Homo sapiens: one gene and its partners. The protein of the gene in region 3 purifies or fractionates together with the protein of the main gene of each other region. This does not show direct contact. Each region holds a gene or a part of one and is shown on either strand. Other genes may lie near its edges.

Region 1 (5,769 bases), on a different chromosome or scaffold from region 3:
TACACTACATTTTTCATGAGCATGGAAAGGGCTGATGAGAATATTGTAGGTTGATGAATTGTTTTAAAAGTCTATCTGTAAGATACTTGAGATAATTTAAAAGTGGTTCTTTTTTTTTTTTTTTTTTTTTTTTGAGACAGAGTCGTGCTCTGTCGCCCAGGCTGGAGTGCAGTGGCACGATCTCAGCTCACTGCAGCCTCCGCCTCCAAGGTTCAAGCAATTCTCCCTGCCTCAGCCTCCCCTGAGTAGCTGGGATTACAGGTGCCCACCATCATGCCTGGCTAATTTGTGTATTTTTAGTAGAGAGGGGGTTTTGCCATGTTGGCCAGGCTGGTCTCGAACTCTCGACTTTAGGTGATCTGCCTGCCTTGGGCTCCGCACCTGGCTGTGGCTCATTTTCAATAAAGCTCAAATCTTGACTTTGAATTAATATATAGGGCTCACCTTGGGCTTTCACCACCCCCTCAAGAGCAGTATTTTAATCAAGTTGTTATGAGAAAGGAAAGTATTTTCTGCATTGTTTATTGAGAGAGAGAGAGAGAGAACTTTATACATTAGGAACTGGTGCACTTAAATTATGTGACAGATGACCTTAAAAACTAGAGGTATTGTCAACAATACAACTTCAATTTTATATTATTACAGTTACTGATATTTTTAAAATAATGTAAACAAAAATATAGATAAGTTATGCCAAAACAAAAGGTAAAATCCAAAAAACAGAAAGAACACATATATAAGTTAGCACATTAGCTACTACAAATAACTTAACACAAAGTGATATAACAGCCCAGACCCAAAATTTTAGTCATTTCTGTACTGTGTGAGCAGATATAAGAAAAAATGGCATAGACCTGACCCAGGAGCTACAGAACAAGTTTTGCAGAAGTTTTTTACATCACCACGTTCAATACTCTCCATTTGCAACCTAAGCATTTTCTCTCCTTTAAAAAAAAAAGTATATATATATATTTTTCAAAGAGATGAGGGTCTCGCTATCTTGCCCAGACTTGTCTTGAACTCCTGGGCTCCAGTGATCCTCCCACCCCAGCCTCCCAAAGAGCTGGGATTACAGGTGTGAGCCGCTGCGGCCAACCACTTTCCCTCCTTTGGCCATTCCTTCTTTTAGCTACTATTCCTAAGAAACAGATTTAAAATATATATCTTCTAGGGTAGGCTAGTAGCTATTCACAGTAAGATTCTACTTCTTTTTTTGTTTGTTTTTTGAGATGGGTCTCACCATATTGCACAGGCTCCTGGGCTCAAGCAATCTACCCACTTCAGCCTCCCAAATAGCTGGGACTGTAGGCACATGCCACCATGCCCAGCGTAACAGTAAGATTCTGATAGGTGACCAAAGCTAGAACCTAGGCCTCCAGCAGCCAAAGCCTAATTTGATGGCTCAGTGGACACACAAAGCTAATTTGATAGCTCACGCCAAACAAAGAGACATTTTTATCACAATTTATCTAAGAGGCTTCCCACTTCTTATTTGGAAAACAGGTGGCAAAATAAAAAGAAAACCTTTGAAAGGTGAAAGATAAGAAAATCCTTGTGTTTGTGTAATTTTGAACCTGAAAAGGCTAAGTTCACTGACTTTACAGATTCAATTATGGATGGCTGGTTTTTATTTCTCTACCCATTGGCCTTGGTGACATCATGACATTCCCCTGAGTTTGGTTAATGAAAGCAAACAAACAAATAAACAAAAAGAGCGATTGAAGAACAGCATAAAACAAAGTGAAAACATTATGTGGTTGCATCTTTTGCATTTCCTGGTAAAAGTGCTAATGGCACTAAGAAGCCAATGTTTGTACCATTCTACTTTAACGACGTGTTTCCGACATGATTCCCTTTACTCCTGAGGTTAAGGCACACCAGGCTGAACAAGGTGAGAGTTCTGACATGCATCATGGAATGCACAGGCTCCAAGAGCATCTATATGAAGAGTAGCCAGCAGGGAAGAAGCAAAGGGATCCAGATTTAGTTGAAGGGTCCTGCAGGCTTCAAGTGGTTCAGACTAGACTAGAAGCACGAGACAGTACTATAAGGCACTCCTACAGGGACAAGAGACACAAGGGAAGGCCAACATGGAGAAGGAGCCACAGGCCCCAGCTGTCCTCTAGCTGGTTTATTAGCCATGAGGCCTGCCTCTGGGCTGGGGCTCAGAACTAGGGGCAAGGAAGATCCAGGGAAAAGAGAGAGGCTGGTTTGCAGCTTCACGGCCAATAGGAGGGAGCCCTCCTAAGAGTTAGGAGTTGCTGTGAGTTGCTGTAGGTGCCTGAATCTTCTACTCTGGGCAACAACCAGCTTCATTCAAAGTCTGGAACTTCATTCAAAGTCTGGAACTTCATTCAAAGTCTTGTCTTTCTAACAAGACGAACAGGCAGTGGCTTCTCTTTTCACAGGGAAAATCCAAAGCAAAACAGCAGTTGTCTCACTTGAGTTTAGCAATGCTTTCCATCACACCAGCGGCCACTTTACGAAGACAGTGCCACAAAACATGATCATTTGGAACTTACTTTTTTTTTTTTTTTTGAGACGGAGTCTTGCTCTGTCGCCCAGGCTGGAGTGCAGTGGCGCAATCTCGGCTCACTGCAACCTCTGCCTCCCAGGTTCAAGCAATTCTCCTGCCTCAGTCTCCCAAGTAGCTGGGATTATAGGCATCCACCAAAACACTCAGCTAATTTTTGTATTTTTAGTAAAGAGGGGGGTTTCACCATGTTGGCCAGGCTGGCCTCAAACTCCTGACCTCAAGTGATTCACCCACCTCGGCCTTCAAAGTGTTGGGATTACAGGCATGAGCCACTACGTTCAGCCTAATTTTTTTATTTTTAGTATAGACCTGATTTCACCATTTTTGGCCCGGCTGGTCTCAAACTCCTGACCTCAAGTGATCTGCCTGCCTTGGCCTCCCAAAGGGCTGGGATTACAGGCGTGAGCCACCAATCCTGGCCAAGTGGAACCCACTTTAAATAAAACTGACAACTACCGGTATGGTTAGGAGGGTATCCCATACTCTTGTCTTTTACCTAGAGTTTAACAATGACTTGGATTTTCCCTCAGCCATGCACCCATTAAAACGCACTAAGGAAAGACCCTTGAGTCAGAGATTTTTGAATCCAATGAAATTAGAATCGTCTACCAATAAGGAGACTACTGGGTGCTAGACTTAACTGTCGAAACACCGTTCCACATGACAGAAATCAACACTTGTCTGTTTACATTAACCGAGCAGAGCTTAGTCACCCATCACTGGATTCGACCTCGAGCAGACAGCTCTACCTGACTCAGGGTCGGAAGAGTGATACAAGGTGTGCAACATATGAAGCTCCTAATGCCCATCACTAACAAGTGACACGGAGGCAGGGGAAACAGAGAGTGCCGCTACCGATTCAGGTCACGCAAAGGAGGGAGGCTCTTTCAAGGTCTTGCTCCAACTTCACGTTTTCACATTATTTCAGAGTAAGAAAAGAAGTGGTGCAGACAACTCAAGAAATAAAATGGGCAAAAATTATACACATCTCTATTTACTAGGAGAAGTAAAAAAATAAAACAACCCCTGTGTTGAAACCAGGCAGTATTGGAATCAGGAGGTGAAGATCTGTTTCATAATCTAGTGATTTCAAGAGAGTGTGTCAGATCAACGGAGATGAATAATTGTGCACAAATACACGAGCAACAGCATTGGCTTGACTCTAAAGGAGGACCAGAATGTGTCTCTACTTCCACTGCTAACGCCCCTCTGCAGAAAATGTTCAGTGTGCGTGGCATCGTGCTAGTCCCACCTGGATATACTAATTTATGGACGGCCTTTTCTAGCCAATGGGTAGAGAACAAACTCCCAGGTTTGGAAGCCAAGCCTCTCTGAGGAGGCACAGAAAAGAACTATCCGATGTCCACGTTCAGTGTGTACACACAACACACAGAGACAAAAACAGAGGCCAGGCTCCGTCAGAGGACACACTCTAGCTGAGCAAAGGCTGCATTCGGCAACTAGGGTGGTGTAAACACCTCGGATCTCACTGCAGCCGGAAGGAAGTCACGGCATAGTCCCTTTTCAGGAGTCTGAGGGATACCACTTGTGTTGCAAACCACAGATCCCAAGTATTAGACGTATTCCCTTCTTGGTGGAGGCCTACTCTAGAAGAATCAAAAACCGATGACCCTCTCAGCGAATCCGATGTTAAAGCTCCTAACTAGGTGACCCTTTAGCACTACAGACGTAAAAATGACTCTAATGCACTCCCTAGAAAAGGCAGTGAAGCAAAGGGGGCTGCTGAGAGTTTACATGGTTTTCATATAAAGAGGCTTTTAACTTTGGAAAAAGCGGGCCTGGAAAGAACACTACCCCCATTCCAGTTGACGGCTTTTTAAGTACTTTGTGGCCTTCCTGCCGCGGTGCAAAATGAGGTCTATTTTAGGAACTGGCTTCTTTACTGCGGGGTTAGATGCCAACATTTCACCAGGGTTGGACGATCTCACACATGAGTTTCTGGCACTTTTAGGAGGGATTTCCTCAAGTGATACACTAGGGAATGAGCCTTTCAGCAAAAAGCGGTTCCCCGGAGTCAGTTGCCAGCTCCAGGAGATTAATTGGCCATTTTTTCATATGTTTTATGTGCAAGATATTTAATATGGGATGAAAAATGGAACACGAGGAAAAGCAGGTATTAGTTTGGTCTGAAAGAGGTGGTAATCCACAGATTTGCTTTTGTTTCGACAGTTTCTAAGCAGTGGAACAATTACCTAACAGTGCACCAAGTAATTTGTTAAAGTTGAAAACAGTAAGGGCGTTCATGTGCGCCAAGGTATTCTGGGCTGAAAACAGCAATTTTGAATTTTCATGGCAGACCCAACTCCTAAGCTGGCTCCACTCTGTCCTATCAGATTTTGGTGGTGGTGGCAGAGAATGTCATAGGCCTGTGGCTGGCACCGACCAAGCTGTCAGGGTGGTACGAAAAGGAGAGGAAACAGGAGTGCTGGACATGGACCCAGCTCTGGGTAGCTGATGGTGATAACACATCGATTTTTTGTTTCCCTTTTGAAAATAAGCAGAAAATGATGTGGGTGGAAAGTCCTCCTTAGGAGTTCACAGGGACTGCTCGTATTTAGCAGGGCCCTCTAAATGGGGACTGGTGAAAACAAAGATGTTTTGAACGGGGATCCAGAATTTCGCCCTTGACTCTCGGCAGGTATGACCCTGGGTGCCTGTGAGCTAGGAGAGGAAATTCTGTATGCAGGGCAAACATGTTACAAGGGGAGGAGATGGCACTGCACTTCAGGTCTCCAAATGCAGTGTGCTAGGAATGGCCTCGCTGACAGTTGGAATCACGGATACATTAATTACAGCGAAGGCAAAAGTAAGCTACAGTGACAGGGAGCTGGGGGCGGAGGGAGAAGGCACTTTGCCATGGGAGCACATCTGTTTTATAATAAGCAGGTCTATAATTCTCTTGTGAAAGATCATGTTCTGCTATCTTCTCTGAGGCTGGAAAATATAAATACTGTATTTTACCAAGAGGAGGAGGAAAGGAGATGATCAAATTTGTTTGCCTGTTGCCAAGTGTTTGAGATTTTCCACCCTTTTTCTTTTGTGTGCAACATTCTCTTTAACTAGAGTGGGGGAAAAGTCAACCTGCTTTTCTAAGGGTAAAAGGCACCGTCAGGCGTCTCATGAATAGGGCCCTGGCCTTTTAACAAGTTTTCAAGCCTTGGTTGCGGCTACTGTATAGTCAGAAAATAAATGCATGTATGGTGTTGAGCTAT
Region 2 (6,966 bases), on a different chromosome or scaffold from region 3:
TCTCGCCATGTTGGCCAGGCTGGTCTCGAACTCCTGGCCTTAAGTGATCCGCCTGCCTCAGCCTCCCAAAATGCTGGGGATTACAGGTGAGAACCACTGTGCCTGGCCAAGATACAACTTTTTTTTTTCTATTTTTTCTTCTTCTTCTTTCTTTTTCTTTTCAGACGGAGTCTCACTCTGTCTCCCAGGCTGGAGCGCAATGACATGATCTTGGCTCACTGCAACCTCCGCCTCCCAGGTTCAAGAGATTCTTCTGCCCCAGCCTCCCGAGGAGCTGGGACCACAGGCGCGTGCCACCACTGCCAGCTAATTTTTGTATTTTTAATAGAGATGGGGTTTCACCATGTTGGCCAGGTTGTTCTCAAATCCTGACCTCAGGTGATCGCCTGCCTCAGCCTCCCAAAGTGCTGGGATTACAGGTGTGAGCCATCGTACCCAGCCTTTTTTTTTGTAGCAACAAGATCTCACTATGTTACCCAGGCTTGTTTTGACCTCCTGGGCTCAAGTGATCCACCTGCCTCAGCCTTCCAAAGTGCTGGGATTACAGGCATGAGCCACTGCAGCCGGCCCAGATCCAATATTTTATATTTATTTATTTTTTGAGACAGAGTCTCCATCTGTCGCACAGGCTGGAGTGCAGTGGCCCCATCTTGGCTCACTGCAACCTTTGCCTGTCGGGTTCAAGCAATTATCCTGCCTCAGACTCCTGAGTAGTTGAGATTACAGGCACGCGCCACCTCGTCCTGCTAATTTTGTGTTTTTAGTAGAGATGGGGTTTCACCATGTTTGCCAGGCTGGTCTCGAACTTCTGACCTCGTGATCCGCCCGCCTTGGCCTCCCAAAGTGCTGGGATTACAGGTGTGAGCCACCACACCCAGCCAGATCCAATATTTTAAAAGGATAATCAACATAAATGAATTTAGGTTTTTTGTTTGTTTGTTTGAGTTGGAGTCTTTCTCTGTCACCAGGCTGGAGTGCTATGGCGCGATCTTGGCTCACTGCAACCTCCGACTCCCTGGTTCAAGAGATTCTCCTGCCTCAGCCTCTCAAGTAGCTGGGATTACAGGCACGTGCCACCACGCCCAGATAATTTTTGTATTTTTAGTAGAGACAGGGTTTTCACTATGTTGGCCAGGATGGTCTCGAACTCCTGACCTTGTGATCCGCCTGCCTCGGCCTCCCAAAGTGCTAGTATTACAGGTCTGAGCCACCGCGCCTAGCCGAGTTTAGGTTTATTTGAGGAATGCAAGATAGTATTACATGATAATCTAACGATGTAATTTATTCATTAGCACAACAAAGGAAGGATAAAATAATGTAATTATCTTGGTTTGGAGAAAGCTGTAAAAAACATTCAAATCTATTCATGATCAAAACTCTTAGCAAATCAGGACAGAGAACTTCCTTAAACTGTCAGAGTATCTATAGAAACTTTTCAGCCCACATCATACTTAGAAAAGTGAAATAGTAGCCGGGCATATTGGCTCACGCCTGTAATCCCAATATTTTGGGAGGCCGAAGTGGGCAGATCGCTTGAGCTCAGGAGACCAGCCTGGGCAAGATGGTGAAACCCCTTCTGTACAAAAAATACAAAAATTAGCCGGGTGCAGTGGCCTATGCCTGTAATTGCAGCTACTTGGGAGGCTGAGGTGGGAGGATCGCTTCAGCCCAAGAGGTTGAAGCTTCAGTGAGCCGGGAGATTGCACCACTGCACTCCAGCCAGGGCAAAGAGAGTGAGACAGTCTCAAAATAAATAAACAAAACTAAATATAATACATGTGAAAATACAAAGAGCTCAGAAGAGATAAGAGCATCTAACCTTTATTTCTTGAAAAAATTTCAAACCTACAAGAATGCTCAGAGAGTACTGCAAAAGAACACCTATAATCTTCACCTAGATTCAATTAACATTTTGTCACTTTTTAAAATTTTGAGACAGGGTCTCCCTCTGTCTCTGGCTGCAGTGCAGTGCTCCAATCATGGTTCACCGCAGCCTCTAATTCCTGCGCTGAAGCGATCCTCTCACCCTAGCCTCTGGTTAGGACTACAGATGTGGGCTGCCTAGCTAATTTTTTGAAAAATTCTTTTATAGAGAGGATAGGGGGAGGGGGAGTCTCACTACATTGTCCAGTCTACCCTCACATTCTCGAATTTCTGGACTCAAGCGATCTTCCTGCCTCAGCCTCACCAAAACGTGGGAATACAGGCGTGAGCCTCTGCGCCCAACCAATATTTGCCTTATCTCTTTTTTTTTTTTTTTTTTTTTGAGATGGAGTCTGGCTCTGTTGCCCAAGGTGGAGTGCAGTGGCGCGATCTCGGCTCACCGCAAGCTCCGCCTCCCGGGTTCACGCCATTGTCCTGCCTCCGCCTCCCAAGTAGCTGGGACTACAGGTCGCGCCCGTCACCACGCCCGGCTAATTGTTAGTATTTTTAGTAGAGACGGGGTTTCACCGTGTTAGCCAGGATGGTCTCGATCTCCTGACCTCGTGATCCACCCGCCTCGGCCTCCCAAAGTGCTGGGATTACAGGCTTGAACCGCGGCGCCCGGCCTTTTTTATTTTTATTTTTATTTTTTTATTTTTTATTTTTTAGAGAGGAGTTTTGCTCTTGTTTCCCAGGCTGGAGTGCAGTGGCGTGATATCGGCTCACTGCAACTTCCACCTCCCAGGTTCAAATGATTCCCTGACTCAGCCTCCTGAGCAGCTGGGAGTACAAGGGCCCGCCACCACGCCCGGCTACATGTTTTGTATTTTTAGTAGAGACCGGGGTTTCATCATGTTAGCCAGGCTGGTCTCAACCTCCTGACCTCAGTTGATCCTCCTGCCTCGGCCTCCCAAAGTGTTGGGATTACAGGCGTAAACTACCGCACCCGGCCCTTGCCTTGTTTCTAAATACACACAAGAATGTTAATCATAGCACCTAATAGCCCAAAAATTGGAAACAATCCCAAAAGCTATTATCAGCAGTATATATATATATATATATATATATATTTTTTTTTTTTTTTTTTTTGAGACAGAGTCTCGCTCTGTCGCCCAGGATGGAGTGCATTGGCGTGATCTCGGCTCACTGCAAGCTCCGCCTCCCGGGTTCACGCCATTCGCCTGCCTCAGCCTCCCGAGTAGCTGGGACTACAGGCGCCCGCCACCACGCCCAGCTAATTTTTTTTTGTATTTTTAGTAGAGATGGGGTTTCACCGTGTTAGCCAGGATGGTCTCGATCTCTTGACCTCGTGATCTGCCCGCCTCAGCCTCCCAAAGTGCTGGGATTACAGGCGTGAACCACCGCGCCCAGCCTATTCTTTCTTTAGAATAGATCAGTGGTGGCGTATTCATACAATGGACTATTCCGCAGTGATGAAAATGAATTATAGATATTTGCAAAAATATGAATTACATAAACCATATTGAGCAAAAGACGCCAACAGATACATACTCTCTTTACATAAGGTGTTAGATACACAGAGATAGATAAATACGTGTAAATGATAGAGATATGATAGCTAAGCCAGTCCACAGGTTATTAGTCGTGGTCCACGTGACTTCTGAAGAGATGAAGGGGCATGGGAGGCTTTAGGGGAGCTTCCGCTTTTCTGGCAAGGTTTTCTTTTTGCCCGGGGAGCTATCAGCCAGCGGAGAGATCTGTGAGAAGGGATAAGACCTCAAGACAAGTAGGAAGCAGAGCCTTCCACGGCCCGCGCCCTGGCGGCCCCAAGTCAGCGGCGGAGACGGCGCCCACCCCGCTCCAACGTGGAGCAGGAGCAACGGCGTGGCCCGTGGAGCCCCGCCCCTCACAGGCAACCACAGAGAAGCCGGACTGGGCCACGTCTAGGAAGAGGTAGGAAGGGATCGGCGCATCGTTTCTCCAATGGGAAAGGATGTGTTTGCGGGCCAATAAGTAGCCGAGAATAACACCCGCCCACGCGCCTGCCAAGCCAATCGGCTAGGAGCAGCGAGCGGCGCGGCTGAGGCGCGGCGGCCCCGTGGAGCAGCGCAGTATGGCGGGCGGGGCCCGGGAGGTGCTCACACTGCAGTTGGGACATTTTGCCGGTTTCGTGGGCGCGCACTGGTGGAACCAGCAGGTGAGGTCAGCCGGCAGCTGCCCCCGAGGAGCCCTTCGGGATCTACAGTCCCGACGTTCAGCCGGCCTGCCTCGTCCTCTCTGCTTCCCCAGGATGCTGCGCTGGGCCGAGCGACCGATTCCAAGGAGCCCCCGGGAGAGCTGTGCCCCGACGTCCTGTATCGTACGGGCCGGACGCTGCACGGCCAGGAGACCTACACGCCGCGACTCATCCTCATGGATCTGAAGGGTGAGGTGGTGGCAGAGTTAGCCGATGCCCCTTATTTCCCTTCCGCGTGCCTAGTCCTTGCGCTGCCGTTATCTTCAAGACCCTCCCACCTTACCGAGCTCCAGGACCGGAGATGAGGAGCTGAGCACAACATGCCAACACTCGAGGGGCCCACGACAGTTGCTCAAGAGCCATTTCGGGAATAGGCTGCTAGGCCCTGGAGACAGTGAGGACTTGAACTGCAGCACTCCTGTCAGACCCCTGGATGTGGTTCCCCCCGCGTCCCACAGCTAATGACTAAGCTGGGAACCGAAAGATGGAATCTAGATTCTCCTAAGCCAAGGTTTTTCCCCCAACTAGTGTATATCCCAGAAAGCTTGGAAGAGCCAAGTGCTGGAGAGATGGTGACAGCAGGTTGTCAGGTGATCAGAGGAAGGTTAGCTAGAGGGGAAGGGTGCCCAGGCTTTGACCTAACATTGTCTCTGTTATTTCTGTACAGGTAGTTTGAGCTCCCTAAAAGAGGAAGGTGGACTCTACAGGGACAAACAGTTGGATGCTGCAATAGCATGGTGTGTAACTGATGTATGGATAAGGGTGGGGATCGTGTATGTACGCAGAACGCTGGATAACTCTGATCAGAGTGCAGTTTCTTTGATCAATCTCCAAACTCTTTCAGGCAGGGGAAGCTCACCACACACAAAGAGGAACTCTATCCCAAGAACCCTTATCTCCAAGACTTTCTGAGTGCAGAGGTGAGGGCCTCTGTCCTGAACTTTTTAACCCGGTGCCACAACCCGAGGGTCTCCATAGGGGCAGGTAAACGGGGATTTTAATCATTTTAAGTGTCTTAGAATGATATTTTGGGAAAAAGCACTCCTTTTCCTAAGGACTGCGACTCGGTGAACAGAAAGGAGGCTATGCGGTGTGGCCAGCCAACTCAAGGAGGACGAAGCAACCTTTGCCTCTAAACTGCCTGGAACTAAATGTCGATTTTTCTGACCCCTCCCAGGGAGTGCTGAGTAGTGATGGTGTCTGGAGGGTCAAATCCATTCCCAATGGCAAAGGTGAGACTTCTCCAGATACTGATGGATGGGGGCTTGGGTAGAGCAGAAACATGGAGAAAGGTACATTTCCTCTGCTTGTCTTCAGGTTCCTCACCACTCCCCACCGCTACAACTCCAAAACCACTTATCCCTACAGAGGCCAGCATCAGGGTCTGGTCAGACTTCCTCAGAGTCCATCTCCATCCCCGGAGCATCTGTATGATTCAGAAGTACAACCACGATGGGTATGGGGACCCCAGAGGCTTTGAGGCAAGAAACATGGGTCCCCACCAATGCAGGATGAGGCTCTTGAGGCCATCTTCCCTGCCCTTCCCCAGGACAAGAGGCTGAGGAGTTGAGGGAAGAGATGTAAGTCTTGGATCATGTTTACTTGTGGCAGGGAAGCAGGTCGGCTGGAGGCTTTTGGCCAAGGGGAAAGTGTCCTAAAGGAACCCAAGTACCAGGAAGAGCTGGAGGACAGGCTGCATTTCTACGTGGAGGAATGTGACTACTTGCAGGTAGTGGCGTGGCAATGTGCACTCCAGGGTGGAAGCTCTTCTCATCCTGCTAACTATCTTTTGTCACTCACCCCCGTCCAGGGCTTCCAGATCCTGTGTGACCTGCACGATGGCTTCTCTGGGGTAGGCGCGAAGGCGGCAGAGCTGCTACAAGATGAATATTCAGGGCGGGGAATAATAACCTGGGGCCTGCTACCTGGTCCCTACCATCGTGGGGTGAGTGGAACTTAGAGAAGTAAACAGTCACACAGTGGGGAGGGAGAAATCAGAATCCCAGTGGGAGAGCTGCTTAATACAAACTACTCTTTCTTCACCAGGAGGCCCAGAGAAACATCTATCGTCTATTAAACACAGCTTTTGGTCTCGTGCACCTGACTGCTCACAGCTCTCTTGTCTGCCCCTTGTCCTTGGGTGGGAGCCTGGGCCTGCGACCCGAGCCACCTGTCAGCTTCCCTTACCTGCATTATGATGTAAGTCTCGGTGCTCTTGTTCTGACTGCGGCAGGCTACAGGGCCTCCTCATGCTCCCAGTCAGCCGCTGTCTGTTACTGGCTCTGTTCTTGAGGCCCGAGCTTGAACTCAGCTGTGATGTGGCCTCTCAGATCACACTGTCCTATGCTTGTCCAGCCTGGGGTCAAACATACCCCTGATTCGTCCCCTGGGTCTCTCTGGTGTTAATATTCTGCCTCCACACATTCTTTTCCAGGCCTGAGGCCAAGTGCCCATCTTGGTGTCTTCTTACAGGCCACTCTGCCCTTCCACTGCAGTGCCATCCTGGCTACAGCCCTGGACACAGTCACTGTTCCTTATCGCCTGTGTTCCTCTCCAGTTTCCATGGTTCATCTGGCTGACATGCTGAGCTTCTGTGGGAAAAAGGTATGAAGCTTTGTAAGGGGTTGGGTCAGTGCTGAGAAAATGTCCTATAACGTGTTCTCTTCCATCTCTTTAGGTGGTGACAGCAGGAGCAATCATCCCTTTCCCCTTGGCTCCAGGCCAGTCCCTTCCTGATTCCCTGATGCAGTTTGGAGGAGCCACCCCATGGACCCCACTGTCTGCATGTGGGGAGCCTTCTGGAACACGTTGCTTTGCCCAGTCAGTGGTGCTGAGGGGTATAGACA
Region 3 (7,029 bases):
GTGGGATTGCACCGGGCCATGGGCATGTGAGCGGGAGCGACCCGGCCTCTCTGCCCCTCCTGCTTTTTGCCGGTTAGGTGCAGGGCAATGGAAAAGGAGGCCCTCCCCAACACCATTAGCTGTCATAGAGGCCCCAGACCACCTATGGGATTTTTACGTGAGGAAACGAACACATCTTCTCTAAGCCACTATGTTTTGGGGTTTTTTTTTCTTACCACCAATTTACCTGTTTCCTCATGAATATTCTACTTTCTACATTCCCAGGGATACCTGAATCAGCACAGGGGACACAGGGCAGCCAGGCCAAAGCACACACAGACCCAAGGACTGCATCAGGAACATCTGTGGCCTGGGACCCACCACCTTCTTTTGTTGTCACCTTCAAGACACCACCCGTCCTTGTCCATGTGGCTCACTCAGGGAGGAACTTACTTAGCCCACCCGCTTGCTTCAGTGGGTGGGCACACAGCCCAGAACTAGCCAATCGGCCACCGTCATTGGGTCAGTGGGCGGGCACACAGCCCAGAACTAGCCAATCGGCCACTGTCATTGGGTCAGGGGTGGGCACATGACCCAGAACTGGCCAGTCAGCCACTGTCATCCGGTCAGGACTGGCCAATGAAAGTCAGGCCTGAGGTTCCTGCTATAACCACTGTGAAAAGGCAGCTGTCATCTGCACAGGGAGGCTCAGCTCCTGGAAAGCAAGATGTGGTTGCCGGGACCGTCTCTGCCACCGCACAGGGAAGGCCTGCCTGAGGCTGGATCAGACACAGGAAGTCGAGTTGGAAGAGAGCAAGATTCCTGACACTGGAGGATCTTCCAGTCACCAAGCAAATACATTTTTCTTTTTGGCTTAAGCTACTCAGGGTTGAGTTTCTGTTCCTTGCAACAGGAGGGTCTAGGCTAATAGGGAAACCTCCCGCAGTGGGGTGAGGGCCCGTCTTCCACCCTGCCTGTCTCGTGCCCTTCTACCTCAGCCCCTGAGGCCGAGAGAGAGACCACCGCCTGAGAGAGAGCCAGAGGCTGGCAGGGTCCTCCTAGTTCCACAGTTCTGGCCTCGGCCCCAGGCTGCCCCACGGCGGGGCGGCCCCACACCCACCTTCAGCTCCTGGAGCTTCAGCCGGAGGTGGATGAGTCGCACCACGGCATCCTTCTGCTTCTCCGACTGCTCGGGCAGCTCCAGAATCACCTGCTTGCACTCCTCGATCGCCTGCCGCAGCTGCTGGACGTCAGAGGCCAGGAACAGACCCTGCCCAGGTTGGGGGCGGGGGCAGTCAAAGGCCCATCCTGCAGGAGCTCCCTGTTAAGGCCCATCCGCCGAGACAGGCCCAGAGCAGACCCCGACACCCCTCACCCAGAGAAGGAAACTCAACCCAGAGGGCACCGAGGACTTGCTCCAGGGCAGGAAAGGTGGCAGCACGGTCAAGGTCCACCCGGTGCTGCGTGCTCCTAGCCTGACCTGCCTGCCCACAGACCTCTGAAAACCTAATGTTTGAAAGTTGCTTTTCAAAAGACAACTTCCTTCTTTGAGAAATCCAGATGCTTTTTTGTTATGTCACTTCACTTCCTTCTGAAGAGCTTCCTCTTGGAGGAAAGCTAGGGAAAGGACATTTGCTGTCATGAAGGACAGTAAGTGGCCTCGAGCTTGACTGCCAAGCCCAAGCACATGCCGAGAGCCAGCCCCAGCACTTCTGGTTGCTTTCGCCACATAGCGACCAGGGGGCTCACGGCCCAGCAAGGCCCCAGACTCAGAACACTCTGGGGATCCCGGGGAAGACAGGATCAGGTCTCAGTGCTGGGGAGCCTGGACCCCGCCCTCAGGAGCCATCCTCCTCCTCCAGGCTGCTGGGCTCTGAGACCCAGGCAAAGGGGAGGTGGCACCCTCCCCTCCCCCTTGCAGCTCAGCCTGTGGCCCAAAGGAAGTGCTCAAAATGTTGTAATATACAAAACAAGCTGAGTGCAGTGGGTCACACCTATAATGCTAGCACTTTGGGAGGCCGAGGTGGGTGGATCACTTGAGCTCAGGAGCTTTAGACTAGCCTGGGCAACAGAGCGAGACCCCGTGTCTATAAAAAAAAAATGAAAAATTATCTGAGCATTGTAGTGCACACCTGTAGTCTCAGCTAATCAGGAAGCTGAGGTGGGAGGATCGCTTGGGCTCAGGAGGTCGAGGCTGCAGTGAGCCATGATTGCGCCACTGCACTTCACAGCGGGGGCAACAGAGCGAGACCTTATCTCAAGAAAAAGGAAAAAAAATAAGATACGAAACAAATATATGAAGTCTCTCCCTCTTTTTTTTTTTTTCAGACGGAGTCTCTGTCGCCCAGGCTGGAGTGCAGCGGCACGATCTCGGCTCACTGCAACCTCCACCTCCCGGGTTCAAGCGATTCTCCTGCCTCAGCCTCCTGAGTAGCTGGGACTACAGGGGCGCTCCACTATGCCCGGCTAAATTTTTTTTTGTATTTTTAGTAGAGACGGGGTTTCAGCATGTTGGTCAGGCTGGTCTCGAACTCCTGACCTCACGATCCGCCCGCCTCGGCCTCCCAAAGTGCTGGATTACAGGCGTGAGCCACCACGTCTGGCCCAAATCCTTTCAAAGTTACATTTGAATGTTGCCGTAATGTTTCCCTCAAAAGTTGGAGATGGTTTGCATAAAAATAAAAGGTTTTCAAACTTTTTTTTTCTTTGAGACGGAGTCTCACTCTGTCACCCAGGCTGGAGTGCAGTGGCGCAGTCTCGGCTCACTGCAAACTCTGCCTCCTAGGTTCACATCATTCTCCTACCTCAGCCTCCCGAGTAGCTGGGACTACAGGCATGTGCCACCACGCCCGGCTGATTTTTTGCATTTTTTAGTAGAGACGGGGTTTCACCGTGTTAGCCAGGATGGTCTCCATCTCCTGACCTCGTGATCCGCCCGCCTCAGCCTCCCAAAGTGCTGGGATTACAGGCGTGAGCCACCGCGCCCGGCCTCAAACTTTTTTAAAAAAATCATTATATCCTCCCCCTTTTCTTCTTCAACACAAGGCTTCCATGGAACAAAACACGGAACAAACAAGAGTGGCCCTGTAATACCGACTGGTCAGTACGAGGCAGACAAGGGGCTTCCCCTTGCCTCCCACACCCTGACTCTCGGCAAGTGTACAGGACCTCAAGGACCCCAGAGGGAATCTATTCTCTGCACATTTGCTTCATGAAGACATGGAGCTCAGGGGACAGAAGCAGCCCCAGGTTCATGAACCCCAATCCCAGGCTCTCTCCACCTGCCTTCACTCAGGCTCTGAGGGTGGGGGTCTGTGGTGTCATGCAGGCCTCAGATTCGAAGCCAGGAGCCCTGGCTGAGGTGGGGGCTGCTGAGCCTGACAATGGAGTGAGACTGTACCCCAGCTCACAGGACACTGCCCTGCCACCTGGGAGGGAGTGACAAGGAAACCCTGGCCCTTCCTGCCTTGGGGGTTCCCTCAGTCCCTCTCCCCTCCGAGATCTAAAACCTTACCACAGGGCGGGAGAAGTGGTCCTCAGACAGGCCGAGATCCATCACGCGTTCAGGGCAGCGGAATTCCGGCTCCCCAGGGGGCAGCTCAGGCAGGGCCTCTGGAGGAAGACGGGGACAGGTGTGGAGCGTCAGCTGCTACCTCCTGCCTCCCATCCCCTAGGGAGGAGCTGAGATAGCCAGGAGTGGGAAAGGGATTCAGGAAGCCGCACAGAAAGGAGGCACCGTGAGAGCTGGGCACCACTCAGATCTGCACACCGTCCAGTCTGCATTCACAGAGGAGCCCACAGCCTTGTGTAGACAGGAAAGAGCCACTCAAAATGAGGAGGTGGAATGACACTCGGTGCCAAAAGTCCTCAAGACAGCATTATAGAGACATCCCATTTCTAAGGTGGACACCTCATGCGTGACCACGGGGGCGAGAGAAAAACCACTGCATGGCTACACAGCAAAATCCACGAACCCCAGTGTCGACTCCAGGCCGTCTCTGCAGCTGCCCCGCTCCAAGCACTCCCTGATGACCTCATCTGCAGTTTCTAAAGCTCATGCCACCCTGACGCCCAGAGCACGTTCCCTCGGCTAACCTCTCCCTTACCAGGTCTCAGCGCTGACCGCACTCAGCAAGTGTTCCCTGAGCACCTACTATGTGCTGGGCCCTAGGATGCAGCAGTGATGGGTCAGGCACAAATCTTGCCCTCAGGAATGTGAATTCTAGTGGGGACACAGAAACAAACCACACGACCACAGAAGAGATGGGAAAAAGAACACAGCCAGCAGGTGCCGGCTCCGTGGGAAAGCCAGGGCTGCGCAGGACGCGGCAGGAAGAAAGGAGGGGTCCACGTAAGCAGTCAGAGACCTGCCCAGCTCCCACCCTGACTCCCACCAGCACCCACCTTCAGGAGTGACGTCCGGGACCTCCTCCCCAGGGCCCTGCTCATGCTGTCTCGGCCCAGACTGCTTGTTGAAGGGGTTGAGGTGGGCCTGCCGGAAACGGGCCAGCTTCTCATCATATTCCATAGCATCCCACCTGAGGGCCAGGCAGGGCCAGGATGAGTCCCCAGGTACCAGGCTCACCACGGACCACCCCCTTTCCCCAACCACACTGGGGTGTCTGGGGTGAGGCTGGCCTCTTTCACTTCCCTAAAGTGGGTAGTCCTCACACCACAGCCTTGATCTTCAGCCTTTTCCTGAAACACCTCAGCTGCCTCCTGCCCAGGCCCCCACTGGTGGCGTCCCCTTGGAAAGAGCTCACGGTGACAATGAGGGTCCCACGAGGGCACGTGGCCCATCTGAGGGGCCCAAGCTCCCTGCCTCCCAGCACAGGGTCCTCTTGCCCAATGTTGCAGAGCTCCAGCCCTAGAGCTACCTATGGGATCCTCTCTGGGCCTCAGCCCCAGATACTCACTCAGCCCCGCTCTAGCTTGCTATCCACCTGCTATGTGAGACACACCTCTCAGAAATGGGTTCCTCCTTCCTGGGCCCCAAGCAAAGGTGCTTTCTTGTCAGAGCACCCTGAAACCACAGCCCCTGTCTCAGGACTTAGGGTTGGACACTTGGGGACAGTTCCAGGGCCCATTCCTGCTCTGCCACAGGTGAGTGAGCAGGGCCCACCTTCCCCATGCCCAGGAGCAGGGGATCTTGGGAGGATTCCCTGCCAGCACACAGAGAAGCCCCCTACAAATGCATCCAGGCTCTCTGGCCTGGGTTCTGATCCTGTGATGAGCAACACGACCTGAACCAGGCCCACGGCTCTGTGCCTCAGGAACCCAGGAAACAGGCCGGAAGGGCCTAGTTCTCCACGTGGCAGAAGCTCAGGATCAAGAATTGCTCTTTCCCCACCCGGAGGCTCAGAACACTGCAGAACACACAGGGCTGATGGCTCCTGGCAGGGAGGAAGGGACTTTGGTTGGGGTGGGAGTAGAGGCAGTTGGCATCCAGCCCTCCCACTTAACTTCCTGGGCCACATTCCTTAGCCTCTCTGCCTCCATTTCCCCATCCGTAATGGGCCATTGTGAGGGTGAAATGAGTTAACAGAGACTGAGCACAAAGTAAGCTCGCTGTAAGGTCTGTTGATGTTATAGAAAGTCGGAGATGTCTTTTTAAAGTTGTTCAGTAACTGCAACAGTGTTAGTTATGCTTTCACTACACCTGCTACAGTGTTAGTTATGCTTTCACTACACCTGCTACAGTCTGAAATAATTCACAATTATAATAATCAATCCTATGATTTATCCTCTGTCTCTTCTCCCAAAAGAAAGAGAGCTGAGCCCAGAGGGGACGGCCCTGCTCAGGGTCACACTGTGGCCTGGAAGAACTGGGATTTGAACTAATTGCCTCACTGGCAGTGGGATAAGGAGGCCACCCCAACCCCACATGGCTGCCCTGCAACTGGGCAAGACTCCACACCACCTATGGGGCCTGTCCTGCCTGTTGTGCCTGTGGGGCAGGAGTGTGGGTTGGGCACCTGCACGCCAGCCTGAAAGGACAAAGCACCCATGGACAGGCTGCCCGTGGACCCCAACAGGGAGGCACGGGGAAGACACAGGGAACGTGAGTGGGCCCCAGTCCCACCTCCTTCTCTTATTACCTGATGACTGTGGGTGGGTCACAGAGTCAGAGGCGGCCACCCGATGCCAGCACCTCCCCAGTCTCCCAGGGAGCACCCAGGACACAGGAGAAATCAGGCCATCCCAACATCACTCCTCCTTCTTCCTGAATGAGGAGCCTCATTTTTGTTTGTCACATAATTTCCCAGCCTCCCCAGCAGCTAGACCTGGTAAAGTGACTGTTCTGACCCCCTCGGCTTGAGAAGATCAGGCAGATCTGAGCAGCTCTGGGCTCCTGGCTTCACTGACATACCCAAGTGCTTAGCCCTTCCATCCACCCCAGGAAGTACGTGTTCTCCCTGATTTATAGGCAAGAAAAGGGAGAACCAGAGACTAAATCAGGGCTATCTGAAAACAACAGTAATGGGCCGGGCGTGGTAGCTCACACCTATAATCCCAGCACTCTGGAAGGCCAAGGCAGGAGGACGGCATCCGGCCAGGCCCAATGCAATGAGGCCCTATCTCTATTAAATTTTATACAAATATGGGCTGGGCGCCGTGGCTCACGCCTGTAATCCCAGCACATTGGGAGGCCGAGGCGGGCGGATCACCAGGTCAGGAGATCGAAACCATCCTGGCTAACACATTGAAACCCTGTCTCTACTAGAAATACAAAAAATTAGCCAGGTGTGGTGGCAGGCGCCTGTAGCCCCAGCTACTCGGGAGGCTGAGGCAGCAGAATAGCGTGAACCCAGGAAGCGGAGCTTGCAGTGAGCCGAGAACGCACCACTGCACTCCAGCCTGGGCAACAGAGCGAGACTCCATATCAAAAAAAAAAAAAATCTTTTTTACATAAATATGTATGTGTGTGTATATACATATATATGTGTGTGTGTGTATACATACATATGAGAAAAAAGAAAAGACTTCTGAGAATTGTCCTTAAAGGTAGGGGCTGCCCCTCTTCAGCCATCCCTGCCTCCTGCTGCCTGG
Region 4 (7,029 bases), on a different chromosome or scaffold from region 3:
TCTCATGGTTTCTTTTTTATTTAACCTTTTCAACCATCAAAATTTAATTTTGGTCCATAGTCTCAGTGAGATCAATCCTTTTTTTTCATCCTAAACAATCATCCCACTGAACTGGAATTACACGTTAATAGATACAGCCTTTTTCATTGTTGTTGTTAATTCAGACCCATTTTTTCACTTTGTATCTTTTCCATTAATAAATTTGTCTGCCTTCCTGGATGCAATAACTCACTGTTTTTACTGTATTTTATAATATGGATTAATACCTGGAAGTGGTGATTCTCCTTTACTACTATTAATTTTCAATTCCTTTTTTGCCATTGCCAGTGGAATTCTTATTTCAAATAAACTTAATTTAACTGTATTATGTTTTCCTTGACTACTAAAAAAAAACTATTTTTAAAATCATATTAACTTTATAAATTTATCTGACAAAAACTGACACCTTTTTAATTTTTAGTTTTTCTGTCACAGGAAAAATGCTTTTCTCTTTACTTTAAAATTTTTTGTATTAAGTCCTCAGCAAAATCACTTGTCTTCATTAGAGGTCTAGTTTTCTTAGACTGAATCTTTCTTTTTATTTATATTATATTTTTAACAGATTGTTTCTGGATATTTATATTTGTATATTTGTTTATTTTATAAATGATTGTATTTTACAAATGATCATCTTTCTAAACTCTTATAATAGCCTATTTTTTGCAGTACATTCCGTTGGAATTTTTAGACACACAAAGACAGTAATTTAATCATATCTCATTTCTCCACCTGCCTTATTTATTGCTTTGGCCTTACCGTTCTCAGGTATTAAATGAGGGTTCCGAGTGGGCATCTTTCTTTTTTATTCAGTAGGAAGTTCAACATTATGCCTTTTATTAAGTATCTATCAAGCTCTAAGCCACGATTAAGAGTAATTTGCTAGATATTTATGGCTTTTTAAAATCAATTAATTTATTTTTATTGATACATAATAGCTGTACAAACGTTTGCAGTACGTATGATAATTTAATACATTTATATAATCAAATCAGAGTAATTGGGATATCCATCACCTGAAATATTTATCTTTACATTAGAAACAATCGAATTGCTGTCTTCTAGCTATTTTTAAATGTACAAACTATTAATGTTAACTATAGTCACCTCCTTGTCTATCAAACACCAGGTCTTAACGTCTTCTATCTAAGTGAAGAGTGGGCATCTTTCTCTTCATCCTGATCCTAATATAAGTTTCACTGTTGTGATATCATCAAGTCAGATATTGGCTGTGACTTTGAGTCAGATATTCTTTAACATACTAAAGGACACGGGTCCTATTTGACTAATGTTTTAGAAGTTGGTATTGAATGTTATTAAATGTCTCTTGGACATCCATTGGGATGATCATATGTTCATTTTTCAGACATAAATGTGATAAGTTATCTTAATAGATCTCATTTCCTAATATATAATTATCCTTTTGTTCCCAAAATAGGCTCTACTTATTTGTTGTGTATTATTTTTAGAACATATGACTTGCTAATGTAATTTTTAGGCTTTTGAAGCTAATTTTTTCAAGTGTCATAAATTCATTATTGTTTTGAAATTTTGTCCAATTTTGACATCATAGTTATGTTTATAAAATAATAGTTTAATAAGAGAAAATTTCACTGATTTTTTTCTGCTCTAAAAATGATTTGTTAAATGAAACTTTAGAATAATTCTGCCATCACCTCTTTATTATGCACATAGAGATGAGTCATGACACAGATAATCTGGAACTGTTGACAACTTCCCAGATTCTTTACAACTTTAATATGTATTCTTTCACTCTATCAGTTGCAATATGTGTGAACGTTCATCTGATGCACTGAGTCTGAGGAAAATTTTGACCAGTAACCTTTGTCCACTGGAAAAGAGTCTATGTAGAATTAGATGTTAATTGTAAGTAATCACAGAAGTGCAAATTATAAAAAAGAAATTTTTTGTACAAATTAAAAAGCAGGAAAAGGAATAATAGAATCCTCTTTTAATGAGGCATGGAGAAGTCCATTCTCAAAAACATGGCTTAGTAGTATAAGCTGGTTTAAGCTTTCTGAAGGGCATTTTAGCAAGGCATCAAAGAAAAATTTTCCAATGAGGACATCATTTGTCCCAGGAATTCCTCTCATAAGAAAATCACTGATCATGGCTTCAAAGATTTCACCACAATGATGTTTATCAAAACATTATAAGGGTGAAAAATTAGAAAAAACATAAATGTGCCCAAAAGGGGAATGGTTAAATACATTATATTCTAATATATTGTATTAGATATTATATTCTAATATATTGTATTAGATATTATATTCTAATATATTGTATTAGATAGTGTATCATATTAGAAATTAGATATTAGAATTAGAAATTAGAAATTAGATATTAGATATTGTATCATAATATTCTAATATATGCTTTATATATTAGAATGATATATTTAATATATCATTCTAATATATCTAATATATATTAGAATGATATATTTAATACATTAGATATTAGATATATTAGAATAATATAAATAATATATCTAATATATGTTAGATATTAGATATTTTGTATATACTATATTTATATATAATTATATATTATATATTAGATATATTATATTATATTAATATTTAACATATATTATACAAATATATTATTCTAATATATTTAATCAAAGGAATTTGAGACAGCTGTTATAATTAAGGCAGATACATATTAAATGAAATCAATATACTGTATGTCAACAATATATTTGAAGTGGAAAAGCAGACTGCACACCCACCAGTTGGCAGTGATTATTTCTGGACTTGGGGATTAGAGGTAATTTTTTTCTTATCTGTGTTTCCTGCATTTCTACAATGACTCTCTTCCAAGGGAATACAGTCACAAAAGTGGACTGGGATCAACTTTACTTTACAATCTTACTTTCTTACCCCAAGTATAGATAAACTCACAATAAGGCTTGTGTTTTTGATACTCAGACCTGGCTATGCAAATAAATATGGGGATGTATGAATACAACGGGAAGAGTGGCTACAGATTGAAGCCAGAGTTCATGAGGAGGCCTGACAAGCATTTTGATCCATTTACTGAAGGCATCGTAGATGGGATAGTGGCAAACACTTTGTCTGTTAAGGTAGGTATACCCCATCACAAAATTGTTCCTAACAATAGTGTTGAATTTATCTACATTGCATAAAGAAGTGGCTTAGTCATTAAAAATTTAGTAACTAGGAAAGATTCTACTTTCTTCCTACATTTTTTTTCTCTAAAGATCAAATACACATTAAAAGTTTTCGTAAGGGGTCCGTGTGTTCTCATTGTTCAATTCCCATCTATGAATGCACACGGGAAGGGGAACATCACACTCTGGGGACTGTTGTGGGGTGGGGGGAGCGGGGAGGGATAGCATTAGGAGATACACCTAATGCTAAATGACGAGTTAATGGGTGCAGCACACCAGCATGGCACATGTATACATATGTAACTAACCTGCACATTGTGCGCATGTACCCTAAAACTTAAAGTATAATAATAATAATAATAATAATAATAATAATAATAATAATAAAAGTTTTGGTAGGGTCGGGCGCAGTGACTCACGCCTGTAATCCCAGCACTTTGGGAGGCCGAGGCAGGTGGATCACGAGGTCAGGAGATCGAGACCATCCTGGCTAACACGGTGAAACCCCGTCTCTACTAAAAAATACAAAAAAAAACAATTAGCCGGGCGTGGTGGCGGGCGCCTGTAGTGCCAGCTACTCAAGAGGCTGAGACAGGAGAATGGCGTGAACCTGGGAGGTGGAGCTTGCAGAGAGCCCAGATCGCGCCACTGCACTCCAGCCTGGGCGACAGAGCGAGAGAGCGAGACTCTGTCTCAAAAAAAAAAAAAAAAAAAAAAAAAGTTTTCATAGGCCACATGAATAAGATAAAGCGACTGAACTTTATTCTTAATGATAAAAATCTGACTCTAAATCAATAAAATGAGTTGGAGAGACTCATCATAAGCAAACCTCTTTTTTGGTGTAACTAACCTACTATGAAATTTACATGATAATTAGTGGCCCATATTGGAGAGATTTTCCGGTCTTTTTTTCCCCGTTTGGTTCTTAGAAAATTAGAGACAGAACATTCCCTCAATAAATTATCAAATGTTAAACAAAAGCTTTCAAATTACTTTAAATGGTTTTTGAAAATCTTCCAGAGTATTCAGAGATTTTAAAACACATATTAATGATCATTAAATAAAAGAGTTGCTTTATTAAATATATATGTATATATACATGTATGTCATAAATATATAAAAATCATAGATATATACACATACATATGTATATCTGACCCTAAACAATTCTAAATTTTTTTAGTCTTTGAAATTGATTTTATATCAGATATAATTTTTTAGCTACCAGAAAATATTTTTAATACTATGAAAGGAAAATCAATTTTTTAGAATACATTTTACATGGATTCTTCATCGTTAAAGCTTTTCAAAAATATTGTCTGTTTTCTGTTTAACTGAATAACTATAGAACTAAGAAATTTTTTTACTGGACATAAATGTAATTTTTTGATTAACCTTAAACAAAGGCATTTGAAAAACTATGTAAAAAGCTTTCTATAACAGCTTCACTAATTTCTTTCTACCCTAAGCAGTTGAGCACATTTTTACCTTAAAACTTTCGTCACTTTATATCAAGGGTTTAAAGAATAAAATTTCAGTGAAGTGTCTCATAATTATATCTTTTGAAATTACTTCAAGCCACATGTATAAAGAGTTCAAGTTGGCAGAATTAGAGTTTATTTTAGGAAAGTATTTTCAGAAAAGGCTGTTTAATTCCTGTCAGGTGTGATAAAGATAAACTCATAAGCTCCATGTACTGATAGAATGCTACTTTTAGAATCCTTGTCAATTGTTGTTATAGTTCGGTTGAATTAATAATATTTTTGCTTTGCTTGCAGATTCGTCTTGTTTTGAATGTATTTGTTTGCTTATTTCTTTTTTTGTCTTGAAAATCCTACTGTGACAGTAAGCAATTATAAAACAATGACACAGAGGCAGGAAAGTACATTGAGTTGTGAAGGGGAAATAGTTGATCCCCAGACAAGTGTAACCTGCTGCTCCTGTCCAGAATGGAGACGCTGCTCCAGAGCTGTCAGTCTCCCCTGAATGGACAGTTCTCACTGCAGTAGAGTCCTACCTTTGACATTATAGCTAGAGCCAAGATACAGATCATAACTTTCCAATTATGCCTTTGTTTTCATCTTCTGGCATAGATTTTATAATGCCAGAATGGACTTGTGAGCTCACATGATGTTCTACCGTCCTATGTTACTGACGAGAGCATTGTGGTTTTGGTGTCATGAATTTAGTTTAGGACTCTGCTTTGGTCAAACATCTTAAACATACAACATCTTCTGTGCATCTGAATTCCAAGTAGGACTTGCATAACTTAGAAGTTTCAAACATGTTTTGAAATGCTTGCTTATTTCATAGACATAGTTCTCACATAGAACCTCAAGTTAAACAAAGAGATTGTTGCTAGCAGGTCCCATGCACTCAAGCCAAATAGAACATACAGGGGAAATGAGTTGTCCCAGGGCAAATTCAGAGAGCCTTCCTGATGACTTTCTCTCTGAATTACTCAGAATTTCTGACAACATCAGCATATAGCTGACTTTGACTTTACTCAGCCTTTGATAGCTATTCTCATGCCACCATTTTGTCTGATTTCTGGCCCAGCCATAATTCTGTCCCCTTTCACAATCTTGAGCTCAGATTGTGAGCCCAGCCATAATGCTGTCCCCTTTTCACAATCTGGAGCTCAGAAAGTTCTTGACCAGCAGGCAATTTTCTTGTAACCACATAACCCAGATTCACCAGGTTTGCTCTGTCAGCACTTGCTTCCTGCTTTCCCCTTCCTGGTATACAGCAGAAGCACATCTTGTTTGCCTCCGCTAACCTTTATGACAGCTGGTGGATAGTTCAGATTTTGAAAATTTGCATAGAAACAGAGGCAGACATGGAAGACATTTATAAATACGTAATATTAAAAATCTCTTTTAAGTCTATAATATCCATTAGTTCTGTAGCTAGACAAAGATGGTGACACCTTGTGAGATTAGGGGTAATGATAAACTTATCTTGATGGTTTAAAGTGAATACTTGTTCATTTATTCCTCCTACAATACTGTGTCTTATTAATTGACTACTTCTAACCTCACCATTTTCAATATCCTTCTACCAACCTGTGTTTGTCCATTTTCACACTGCTATAAAGAACTACCTGAAACTGAGCAATTTATAAAGAAAAGAGGTTTAATTGACTCACAGTTCTGCATGGCTGAGGAGGCCTCATGAAACTTACAATTATGGTGGAAAGTGAAGGGGAAGCAAAGCACACCTCACATGAAGGGAGAAGAGAGAGAGTGAGGGGGGAACTGCCACACACTTATTAAACCATCAGATCTTGTGAGAACTCACTATCATGAGAACAGCATGAGAGAAACCACTCCCATAATCCAATCACCCTCCCCAAATATGTGAGGATTACAATTCAACATGAGATTTGGGTGAGGACATAGAACCAAACCATATCATAACCCATTAAGTGAAAGGGAAATCATATTTCTACTCTTGCTTCTATTCCATTTTGCTTATAATTCAACATTTGCTGAAGAGCATTTGTGGCTCTTTAAAGTATTCTCTTATGTCTTTGTTATTTGCATATCAAAATTCCTTATGGATTGATTGATTTATTGATTTTCTAGATTATTTCAGGTCAGTTTCTTTCTGATAAGAAAGTTGGGACTTACGTGGAAGTAGATATGTTTGGTTTGCCTGTGGATACAAGGAGGAAGGCATTTAAGACCAAAACATCCCAAGGAAATGCTGTGAATCCTGTCTGGGAAGAAGAACCTATTGTGTTCAAAAAGGTTGGTCACATGTTCTTGATATGAGTTATAACTGCATTTTTCAGGTGTTTTACACTGAGAAAATAATGAAATGGTGAATTATTT

The links.
Region 1: the proteins of DEF8 (region 3) and PLEKHM3 purify together in Homo sapiens (affinity purification with mass spectrometry; 2 studies listed by BioGRID and IntAct, with this or other methods). This does not show direct contact.
Region 2: the proteins of DEF8 (region 3) and MSTO1 purify together in Homo sapiens (affinity purification with mass spectrometry; 2 studies listed by BioGRID and IntAct, with this or other methods). This does not show direct contact.
Region 4: the proteins of DEF8 (region 3) and PLCB1 purify together in Homo sapiens (affinity purification with mass spectrometry; 2 studies listed by BioGRID and IntAct, with this or other methods). This does not show direct contact.

Annotation. Positions count from the first base shown.
Region 1 is NC_000002.12:207,820,782-207,826,550, forward strand, and holds the end of PLEKHM3 (pleckstrin homology domain-containing family M member 3), read right to left. Parts: 3' UTR 507-5,769; downstream 1-506. UniProt on the Homo sapiens protein: Involved in skeletal muscle differentiation. May act as a scaffold protein for AKT1 during muscle differentiation.
Region 2 is NC_000001.11:155,606,252-155,613,217, forward strand, and holds the start of MSTO1 (protein misato homolog 1), read left to right. Parts: upstream 1-3,966; 5' UTR 3,967-3,997; coding exon 3,998-4,081; exon of another isoform or gene 4,082-4,173; coding exon 4,174-4,309; exon of another isoform or gene 4,310-4,787; coding exon 4,788-4,857; intron 4,858-4,964; coding exon 4,965-5,040; exon of another isoform or gene 5,041-5,104; intron 5,105-5,159; exon of another isoform or gene 5,160-5,175; coding exon of another isoform or gene 5,176-5,297; coding exon 5,298-5,352; intron 5,353-5,437; coding exon 5,438-5,576; coding exon of another isoform or gene 5,577-5,601; intron 5,602-5,669; exon of another isoform or gene 5,670-5,714; coding exon of another isoform or gene 5,715-5,731; coding exon 5,732-5,849; intron 5,850-5,930; coding exon 5,931-6,065; intron 6,066-6,166; coding exon 6,167-6,319; exon of another isoform or gene 6,320-6,383; intron 6,384-6,554; exon of another isoform or gene 6,555-6,592; coding exon 6,593-6,724; intron 6,725-6,797; coding exon 6,798-6,966. UniProt on the Homo sapiens protein: Involved in the regulation of mitochondrial distribution and morphology. Required for mitochondrial fusion and mitochondrial network formation.
Region 3 is NC_000016.10:89,951,731-89,958,759, reverse strand, and holds part of DEF8 (differentially expressed in FDCP 8 homolog), read right to left. Parts: exon of another isoform or gene 6,078-7,029; intron 5,384-6,077; exon of another isoform or gene 5,240-5,383; intron 4,518-5,239; coding exon of another isoform or gene 4,508-4,517; coding exon 4,384-4,507; intron 3,592-4,383; coding exon 3,494-3,591; intron 1,250-3,493; coding exon 1,100-1,249; intron 1-1,099. UniProt on the Homo sapiens protein: Positively regulates lysosome peripheral distribution and ruffled border formation in osteoclasts. Involved in bone resorption.
Region 4 is NC_000020.11:8,730,248-8,737,276, forward strand, and holds part of PLCB1 (1-phosphatidylinositol 4,5-bisphosphate phosphodiesterase beta-1), read left to right. Parts: intron 1-2,990; coding exon 2,991-3,145; intron 3,146-6,780; coding exon 6,781-6,945; intron 6,946-7,029.